Regions from separate parts of the Homo sapiens genome. Here regions 1 and 2 are each linked to region 3. Evidence: fine-mapped expression QTL. A gene starts in region 3. Each other region holds a variant in brackets. All regions are shown on one strand. Distances are from middle to middle.

Region 1 (2,760 bases), 140 kb before region 3:
TTTTCATCTGCACACAACACGGACTGGCTCTGACTCCCAGCTGCCCTCCAGGCAGGAGGTGGACTCCCCTGCTTTGTTCATCAATGTCAAATGTCCCGGGTTCTTTCAAGTGAGGGATAAACCCCATCTAAGAGGACAGGAAAAATTCCAGTAGAATTACTGGCTCTAAAGCCAGCATGCAGGTCTGAGGGGAAGGCGGACAGCTGGCAGGGCAGCTAGTTTATAGGCTTGGTCCCCCTAGAGTCTCCCTTTATCCCAGTCAGTGGTGGCTCTGATCCATCCCATAAAGCCCCTACTCGGAGGGCGGCCTGCCCCACAGGTGCGCTGCTCCAGCCAGGGTGGGCTGAGACCTGGTCCTTCTATTTGAGGTAACAACTTGGTGTCCTGGCCTGCTGATACCCTCTCAATATCTCTTACTTCTTTTTCTAGAGAGGGGTTGAGCACAGAGAGAGGGGTGGAGGGCCAAGTAGGGTGGGGTGGGAGTGGCAATGGGCTTCTAACACACAACCACACCCAGAGAGAAAGGCCCTGCTGTTAACCAGATTGTCATCTTTGGCAACCAATGGATGCTAGAGGTCTCAATGCCTTCCTCCACCTCAGAGTGTTTGATCAGAGTCTTCTTTTTTAGAAAAAAAAATTTTTTTAATAGAGACGAGGTCTCGCTATGTTGAGCAGGCTGGTGGAAGTCCTGGCCTCAAGTGATCCACCCCCTTTGGCCTTCCAAAGTGCTGGAATAATAGGCATGAGCCACTGCGCCCAGCTATAGTATTCTTTCAACCACAGACAGTAGAGTTCCTACGAGGAATTCCAGGAAGCTGATGTTTTTCATCCCTTCCACCTTTATCAGAATGGATTTTAAGTCCCTTACAGTCTGGAGCGCTGGCTAACAGCTGTTGACCTGCTTCTTACTCCAGCTCTGGTTCCAACAGTAACACTGGCTCCTCAAACTTCCAACCCAAGGAACGGTTTCTGCCAAGAAAATGTGCCTTAGGAGATGAGACTACCAGTGGAGCAGAATTCCGGCAGTTCTCCAGGTATGAGCTCCCAGGAGAAGGGACAGTGTTGAGTAGAGAATCCAACAGAAAGTTTGTTTTTTGGAAGGACAGGACTGGCCGATGCTGAGAAGGGAGGGGAGTAGGAGAGGCGGGAACTCCCAGCACAGACCTCAGCCACTTGACCTGTCACCCCAAAGAGCTGGTCATGCCCCGGATCACGTTCCATCTCCCAGTGG[A/G]GAAAGGCAGCCAGCCACCCTTGGAGGAAAGCATCCATGTAGCCACCGATGGCGGGGAGAGCAGTGTGGGGAGTCTCCTCTATTTGGAAGAGGAGACATAGTTGGGTGGGTGGTTCCCTGGCCTTATCAGGCCTCTGCAGTCCAGCATGGAACTGGCAGAGATGGGCCATCCTATCTCCGCCCTGCTGGGCTTGGCTCAGTCCCCTTTAGACAGAGGGCTTTGCCCTCTCACCCCTGCACTCCGTGCCACCCTGCTTCATTGACCCCACTGGCCTCCAGACCGCAGCCAGCTGTAGTGGGAAGAGGAGTGGGCTGACTCTCAAAGTCAGGGGTGAGGACAGGCATGGCGCTGCCTGGGCTGGGCAAATACTGGCAATGGCAGAAAGCAGGAGAGGTGCTTTGAAGGGGAGTTAAGATCCAGAGCATTTAGAGGCAAATTAAACAGCTCTTTTAGAATTCACTCAGCTGGGGGTATTGATCACAATTCTCCCTGGTGGCAAAATGGACATGGCTTAGATAAGTCAAGGTAGCACATACTTGGGAATGCTTTCCATTTTCCACTGAGGTAGGTGATGGCACAGCTGTGGCTTCAGGCTATGTACCTGACATACTCTGACACTAGTGATGTGACCTCGGACAAGCCGTATCTCCACTTAGTCTCACTTTCCTCATCTGTAAAACTGAGAAAAAGTTTTCATGAAATTAAACCCAGGCCAGGCATGGTGGCTCACCGTTTAATTCCAGCACTGTGGGAAGCCAAGGTGGGTAGATCACTTGAGGTCAGGAGTTCGAGACCAGCCTGGCCAACATGGTGAAACCCTGACTCTACTAAAAATACAAAAATCAGCCGGGAGTGGTGGCACATGCCTGTAGTCCCAGTTACTCAGGAGGCTGAGACATGAGAATTGCTTGAACCCAGGAGGCAGAAGTTGCAGTGAGTCGAGATTGCACTGCTGCACTCCAGCCTGGAGGACAGAGTGAGACCCTGTCAAAAAAAAAAAAAATTAAACACAATAATGTATGTGAAGTACAGAGCCTAGGACACACAAGGTACTCAGTCATTGTTCCCTCCTTCTGAAAGCACCTTTCCATCATTTTCCCACTTGACTAATCTGATATTGAATAATTGATTATTATAACCCATGGTGGTTTTAAAACATGTTCACCGATTTTTTGACACTCTTTTCTTCAAAAGGTGGAAACTAGTGTCCCTCCCCTTCGATTTGGCTGAACTTAGTGACTCGCTTCTAATGATTAGAATGTGGCTGAAGTGCAAGTGTGTGTCACTGTGGTTTCTGCTTTGTTCTCCCTTGGATTGTCTGCCGCAGGGGCTGCCTGTCACGAGGGCACTCAAGCTGCCTGCAGAGAGGCCCATACGGGGAGCATCTAAGGTCCCGCCAACAGCTGGCACCAACTTGCCAACCATCCGGGAAGAAGACCCTCCAGCCCCAGTCAAGCTTGCAAATGGCTGTGGCTCTGGCTGATGTCTCAACTGCAACCTCTTGAAAGACTCCAAGCCAGAATGTTCC
Region 2 (2,760 bases), 99 kb before region 3:
GTGCAAAAAAGGTTTAATATTTTGTCATGAACATTTATTACTCATTTTTACATGTTTCAAATGTTTCTCAAATATTGTTCAGATAATCACCTAAGTCATAAAACAGTAAGTGTAAAAATTACTAATATAAGACTAATATAAAAAATTACTAATTACTAATTTCAGCTGATTTTTTAAATTTATCAGTAAATTTATTGAGCTTTCATTAAAATATTAAGATAAAAATTTTATTTATCTTTGAGATGGGTAGTTAATCATATTTTTACTAAAGTTCAATGTTAATAATCCTTTATAGTTGATATATTTGAGTCTCACCACAAAGTCCTGAGATAGGCAATGCCTTGCTCGAGGTTATAAAGCTAATAAGTAAATGGAATAAAGATTCAAATATGGAACCCTCAACTGAGCACAAGTTCTTTTCCTAATTTTATTCAGACTTGGATTGTATCTCTGAAACCAAATACAACTAATAAGCTAGCAGGCATGTTGTGATCTGAAATGTTGAGTAAACCTCTTAGGCTAGATTAGAGCATTAGACTGCAATGGCAGATAAAGCAAAAATATATATATATATACTGGCAGATTATGGTGATCCTGGAATACCAGGCTAAGTACTTGCCCTCTTGTAGCTAAGAATTCATCAAAGCATAATGAGAAACTTGATTTCTAATCAGGGTGGTGTGGCCACATACTGGGCTTAAGTCAGATTAGCCAACAGTTCCCTGGAGTCTCCACTAGAGAAGAACTGGTTAGAAGATCAAACAACATATACACAAAACCATGGCATAAACTATGTCTTCTTTCTCAGATACAGAAGAGCATAGAAGAGGAGGTAGTGGTAGTTGTTAAATTTTGTGAAGATGAATAAACCAGAATGCCATCAGGGTAACAGATTCAAGACCTTAAAAAACCAAAATACAGTCTAAGGAATTAAAATCTTCAAGTGTTGCCACAAAAGCATAATGTACTTCAAATTAGCAATAAATATATAATTTCCAAAAAACAGTTGCCGACTACGTGCTGCGTGCTGTACTGCATGCTCTTATGTTATTTTATTTAATTGTCACAACCGTGTGAGGTATTTTCCCCATTTTACCAACAAGGAAACTGAAGCTCAAGTTAAACGAGCTTCGTAATGTCACATAGCTAGTAAGTGGTAGGCAAAGTAAAATGTGAACCCAGATCCAAAACAAACACTTTTATAAAAAATTGTGTAAACAAAATGGGCAATGATGAGAAAATGTACTGACTCCTAACTTAGGTCAAAATGGCTTGGTACTGCAAAATTTCCATAGTCTGCTGCTATGTAATTTTTTTTGCTTTATCTGCCATTACTACCTCATGCTTTAGCCTATGAGGTTCTTGCAGCATTCTCTGATCACAACTTGCACTTCTCTAGCCCTGCTCGATCTACTTCATCCAATGGAAGTATTGACTTCCACTGTTCTTCTTCCTAATGAATTCTTTCCTTTATTCAACACAT[T/C]ACAAATGCTACCTTCTCCTTGAAGTCACCTAATCATCCAAGTTAGGAGGGATCTCTGTATTTCTTCTCTTCTACACTTCACTGTGAACTTTCCCTATACTATACTTAGGGTACCTAGTGTATGACTGTGATTGTTTAACTATTTTCCTGCTCTACTATACCATATTATCTGAGGACTGAAACTGTGTCTTTCACATTTCTAGATTCTCCCTGAGTGTGTAGTTCAGTGCTCAATTAATACTAAGTTAAGAGTTTCTTTTCATTTTCCTAGATATAAAGAAAGTGAAGAATCTGATCTCAATCTTGACCCAGTTAACGTAGCAAATATCCATTTCATAGGTTATTAGCTAGAAAACAGTCTTATCAGTCTATTACTTGAATGAGAAATCCCTGCTGTCTAATTAGGCCTACCCATAATCTACTAGGTAAGATTTATTTTCTTTAAATAAGAAATTCATCCTCATTGAATGTTATAAACTTTTAAAAAGCCATTTAATTCTTCAACTCAAACAAAATCCTACTTGAAAACTTAATTTGCCCCCAGAACATTATAGTTTGAACAGCTCTTCAAACATAGGTCCAAAAAGTATGGTAAAAAAATCACTAGGTGAAAAGCAAAATGTTTAAGTTAGAGACAGGGTGCCTTAAAAGCCTTATCTGAATCTCACACCCTTTTATTTTATATATCTATCAATGTCGAGGGAGTGAGGCTATAAACTTTGAATTCATAAAGTATGGACATAAATGGACTTCTAAAAATGTCAAATATTCAGAGATGTGAGATTCATGTAGGCTAAGAATATACTTTAAGTACTCACATATTCCGGAATACTATAAACCAAAAGTAGAATTCACTTGAGGCATCACATTTTAAAACTCTGTATCCAAGGTCAGAACTTTCAGGAGAAAGTGGCAGGAGATAAAATACTTAAGTCACAGAAAAGAGAACCAATTTGATTTTTTAAAAAAACCTGACCTGATAAAATTATTTCAATTAATGCTTAAAAAAAAAAAACTCCATGTTGGCTCATTTATCAGTAATGTCTAACTTACACTCAGATAATAACACTGATAAATATAGGAGACATCAGAGATGAATTTTAAATATCCACATCTGGATGTTTTACCTCAAAATTACTAGAGAGGAAAATTGGGGCAAAAAGTTAAAAAAAAAAAAAAGATTACAGACTTGCTGCTCCCAAGGCACCCTATAATTATGTTATTAGAGCTCTCCTAAAGCAGGATTAGGAGCATAACAAACTTACTTAGAATTTCTC
Region 3 (2,760 bases):
AGGAACGTACCCTGCACTATGTAGTCAGAAGCCATTCCAAGAAAAGCAACCATTTAATACTGCTAAATCTAAAATGCTACATAATTTAACGTAAACTTGCACGCACGTGTATGTAGCTAGTCCCATACCCCAGAATCTTATCAATTCCTTCCCCAAACTTGCATATAATCCTCCCTCAAAGCCTCTTGGCTAAGTTAAATTCCTTAACACTCTACCAGGTTAATTGCAACAGCACATGTGCCAAGGAAATTAGTGGTTTTCCTTGCGCTCCCATTTTCAACCGGCACCTACTTGCAATTAAATCTCTGCAACAAAAAAGTTCACCTGAAGCCGTTCTTGCCATTTTAAAAGAGGCCCAGATTATGCTACCTGTCTGTGGTCTTGCCTAAGCTATAATAGCCTACCTCCAAAGAGGCTGGACGTGCCCCAAACACCAGCACACCAGACCTGCTGCCAACTTCGCTTGTCACCCCTAGCAGGAAGCTCAACCTAACATGTATACGTTTGTAGGGGCGGTGTGTTTGTGTGTGTCTGTGTTGGGGGGTGGGGAAGCGGATTATAGGAGAAAGGTGACTGAACACTTTCAACTTGTAACAAAAAAAATTTTTTTTAAATGAGGAGAAAAACAACTAAAACCAACATTCGCTCCCTTTCCTCCACCTTTTCTAAGCGCAGGAACCTCTCACTCCCCTGGAGCGCACCTTCAGGGCTTAAGGTCCCCGGGGTCACCTAAGCTTCAGCCAGTAACTGATTTTGGTACTCCCCGCCTTCCTAGGGAAAACCAGCAGACGCGCGAAGCGTCGGGCCCACCCGGCGGCGCCGCAGGCCGTGCACCGCCACCCCCGGACCCTCCCCCGCAGGTACGCTCCCCTCTGGCCTGGCCGTGGTCCCCACTCCCGCCCCGGAAAAGGGTTCACCTGAGGCCGCAGGGACAGCCAATGAGAAGTCCCCTTGGCCCCGCCAGCCGCCGCTCCCTACCCCCGCGCGACCCCCAGTAGCGTCCCCAGTGCTAGCCCCCGCGCGGGTGCCCGCGTCCCGGCCCGGAAGAGAGGCGGGACGACGGCGCGTCCTCTCCCCGCAAGATTACCTCGCAGCGCGTAGCCGGCTTTGTGTTTCCCCTCCCTCCTTCTCGGCAGCCGCCCGGGCTGCAGCAGCCGCCGGATCCGCCGCTGCGGCCGCCTCTTAAGCGCCGCAGAGCCCCAGAGGGTAGGGCGGGAGAAGGGGAGGGGGCTTGAGGAGGGAGGGACCTGTACGCCGAGCCCTGTGCAGCAGGAAGCGGCGACACCTGGGATGCCGACGCCTCTGGCGCTTGCTCTGTGTTTTAAAAAATCTAATTTAAACCCCTCTTCTTTCCCTCCCGCCCCTCACACTGGCGACCGTTACGGGCTGGCGGCTCGCGCTCTGGCGGGACTAGCCGAGCGCCCCTCGAGCGTCCCTTGGTCCCGCCCCCTAACGCCCCGCCCCTAGGTCCCCAAGCGCCCCCCCCGGTCACGCCCCCAAGGTCCGCCCCTCGCAGCCCCCTACGCCTCTGGCCCCGCCTCTTGGGCTCCGAAGCCTCCCGGCCCCGCCTCCTCAAGACCTCGCCTCTGGCAGCCCCGAGCTCTCTCTGGCCCCGCCCCGAGCGCCCCTCGGGAGTCCTGGTCCCGCCCCCGCAGCCCCCTCCGCGCCCTCAAGCTCTAAGTCCGTGAAGCCGCAGCGGTGGGGGCCTGCAGGCCCGGCAGCCGGGAGGGCCTGGTTCGGGGCGGCTGCCTGGCGCCTTTTCAACGTCCTCTTCTGACTGTGCAGCTCGAATCCGCGGCGTCCCCGGAGGGCCAGAGGGGGAAACGACCCCGATAGAAACCCGACCGCGAAGGGGAGGAGGGGCGCCTCGGAAATGTCTCCCGCCCTAAATGAGCGAGCCCCCTACTCCTACTCCCGAGGCTGAGCCGCCGCTTTGAGTCAGCCTCGGCCGCCCACGCTGGCTGCTGGGGCTGTAGGAGGCCACTGCAAAGGTTCAACCTCCGCACGCCCCCCGTGGGGCCTGGACTTTGCTCTCAGCACAGCTGCCTTCGCGGGCGCCTAGTCCCCACAACCCCTGCTTCACCTCCACATAGGGGGAGGACAGGGGCTCTCGCTTCTGCTTCATTTGGACCCCTCGAGAGTCTTCACTCCCGCTTTGGCTCCCGGCCTCTGAACCTTATGAGAGCTCACTTCTTTGAGGCGAAAAGTCGAGGCATCGCCAAGAACCTTCAAAATGAATGCGGGGCCGGGCAAACTTTGCAACACGCAATTGCAGGGCTGTGGATCCATCCACAGGTGACACCGGGCCTCCCACCCCCCTCGCCCAGACATGTTTCTCATCCCAACCTATTCTTGAAATAGACCTCCCAGCGGTGCACACTTTTCTCTGCCACCCACGACTTCCACGTCCCTCCTGCACCAGTACACTTGCAAGCACACCCCTCCGAGCGCCATTCTAATGATTCATGGTCCCTTGGGCCAACCCCACCCTAACACACACAACAAACTTCGTTCCCCACCCTTATCCCCCTTCGTTTCCAAGGCACTGGCGACAATCCACTTCATTTCCTTTCCTCATCTGCAGACTCGTCCCCCTCAAATACCTCACGCCATCCGCCTCATCTTCATCCCCCCCCTCCTCCCTAAAAATGTGCTAATTAAAATGTAGTTTCCTCTTCCCACATATGAAGTGTGGAAAATGAATCTTGTCTTGACACAAACTGTGATGCATTTATCGTTTTCTCTCTCCACTGGACTAAG

Alleles and levels. Alleles are on the strand shown, and positions count from the first base shown. SD is a standard deviation of normalised expression in the study named. Not every link is listed here.
For the expression in stomach of the gene that starts at base 1,403 in region 3, T is the low allele of the variant in region 2 and C is the other (small effect, 0.28 SD a copy in GTEx).

What was found.
Region 1: its variant is fine-mapped to the expression of ADD3 in whole blood (TOPMed, PIP above 0.99).
Region 2: its variant is fine-mapped to the expression of ADD3 in stomach (GTEx, PIP above 0.99). The same link has a PIP of 0.9 or more in aorta, atrial appendage, left ventricle, sigmoid colon, subcutaneous fat and tibial nerve.

The regions. Positions count from the first base shown.
Region 1 is chr10:110,147,986-110,150,745 of GRCh38, reverse strand. It overlaps LOC105378479 (a long non-coding RNA gene), which reads left to right. Exons shown (of 3, transcript NR_164121.1): 2 at 915-1,034; 3 at 2,560-2,760. Among named protein-coding and RNA genes, the nearest start is that of MXI1, 58 kb to the left of the region's middle. The variant A/G (reference allele first, on the strand shown) is at 1,232.
Region 2 is chr10:110,106,042-110,108,801 of GRCh38, reverse strand. All of the region lies in intron 2 of ADD3 (adducin 3), which reads right to left. Among named protein-coding and RNA genes, the nearest start is that of ADD3-AS1, 99 kb to the right of the region's middle. The variant T/C (reference allele first, on the strand shown) is at 1,484.
Region 3 is chr10:110,006,627-110,009,386 of GRCh38, reverse strand. ADD3 (adducin 3) reads right to left here and starts at 1,403. Exons shown (of 15, transcript NM_016824.5): 1 at 1,088-1,403. ADD3-AS1 (ADD3 antisense RNA 1) reads left to right here and starts at 1,006. Exons shown (of 5, transcript NR_038943.1): 1 at 1,006-1,206. RefSeq lists silencers at 671-1,080, 1,391-1,820 and enhancers at 1,649-2,202, 2,203-2,758.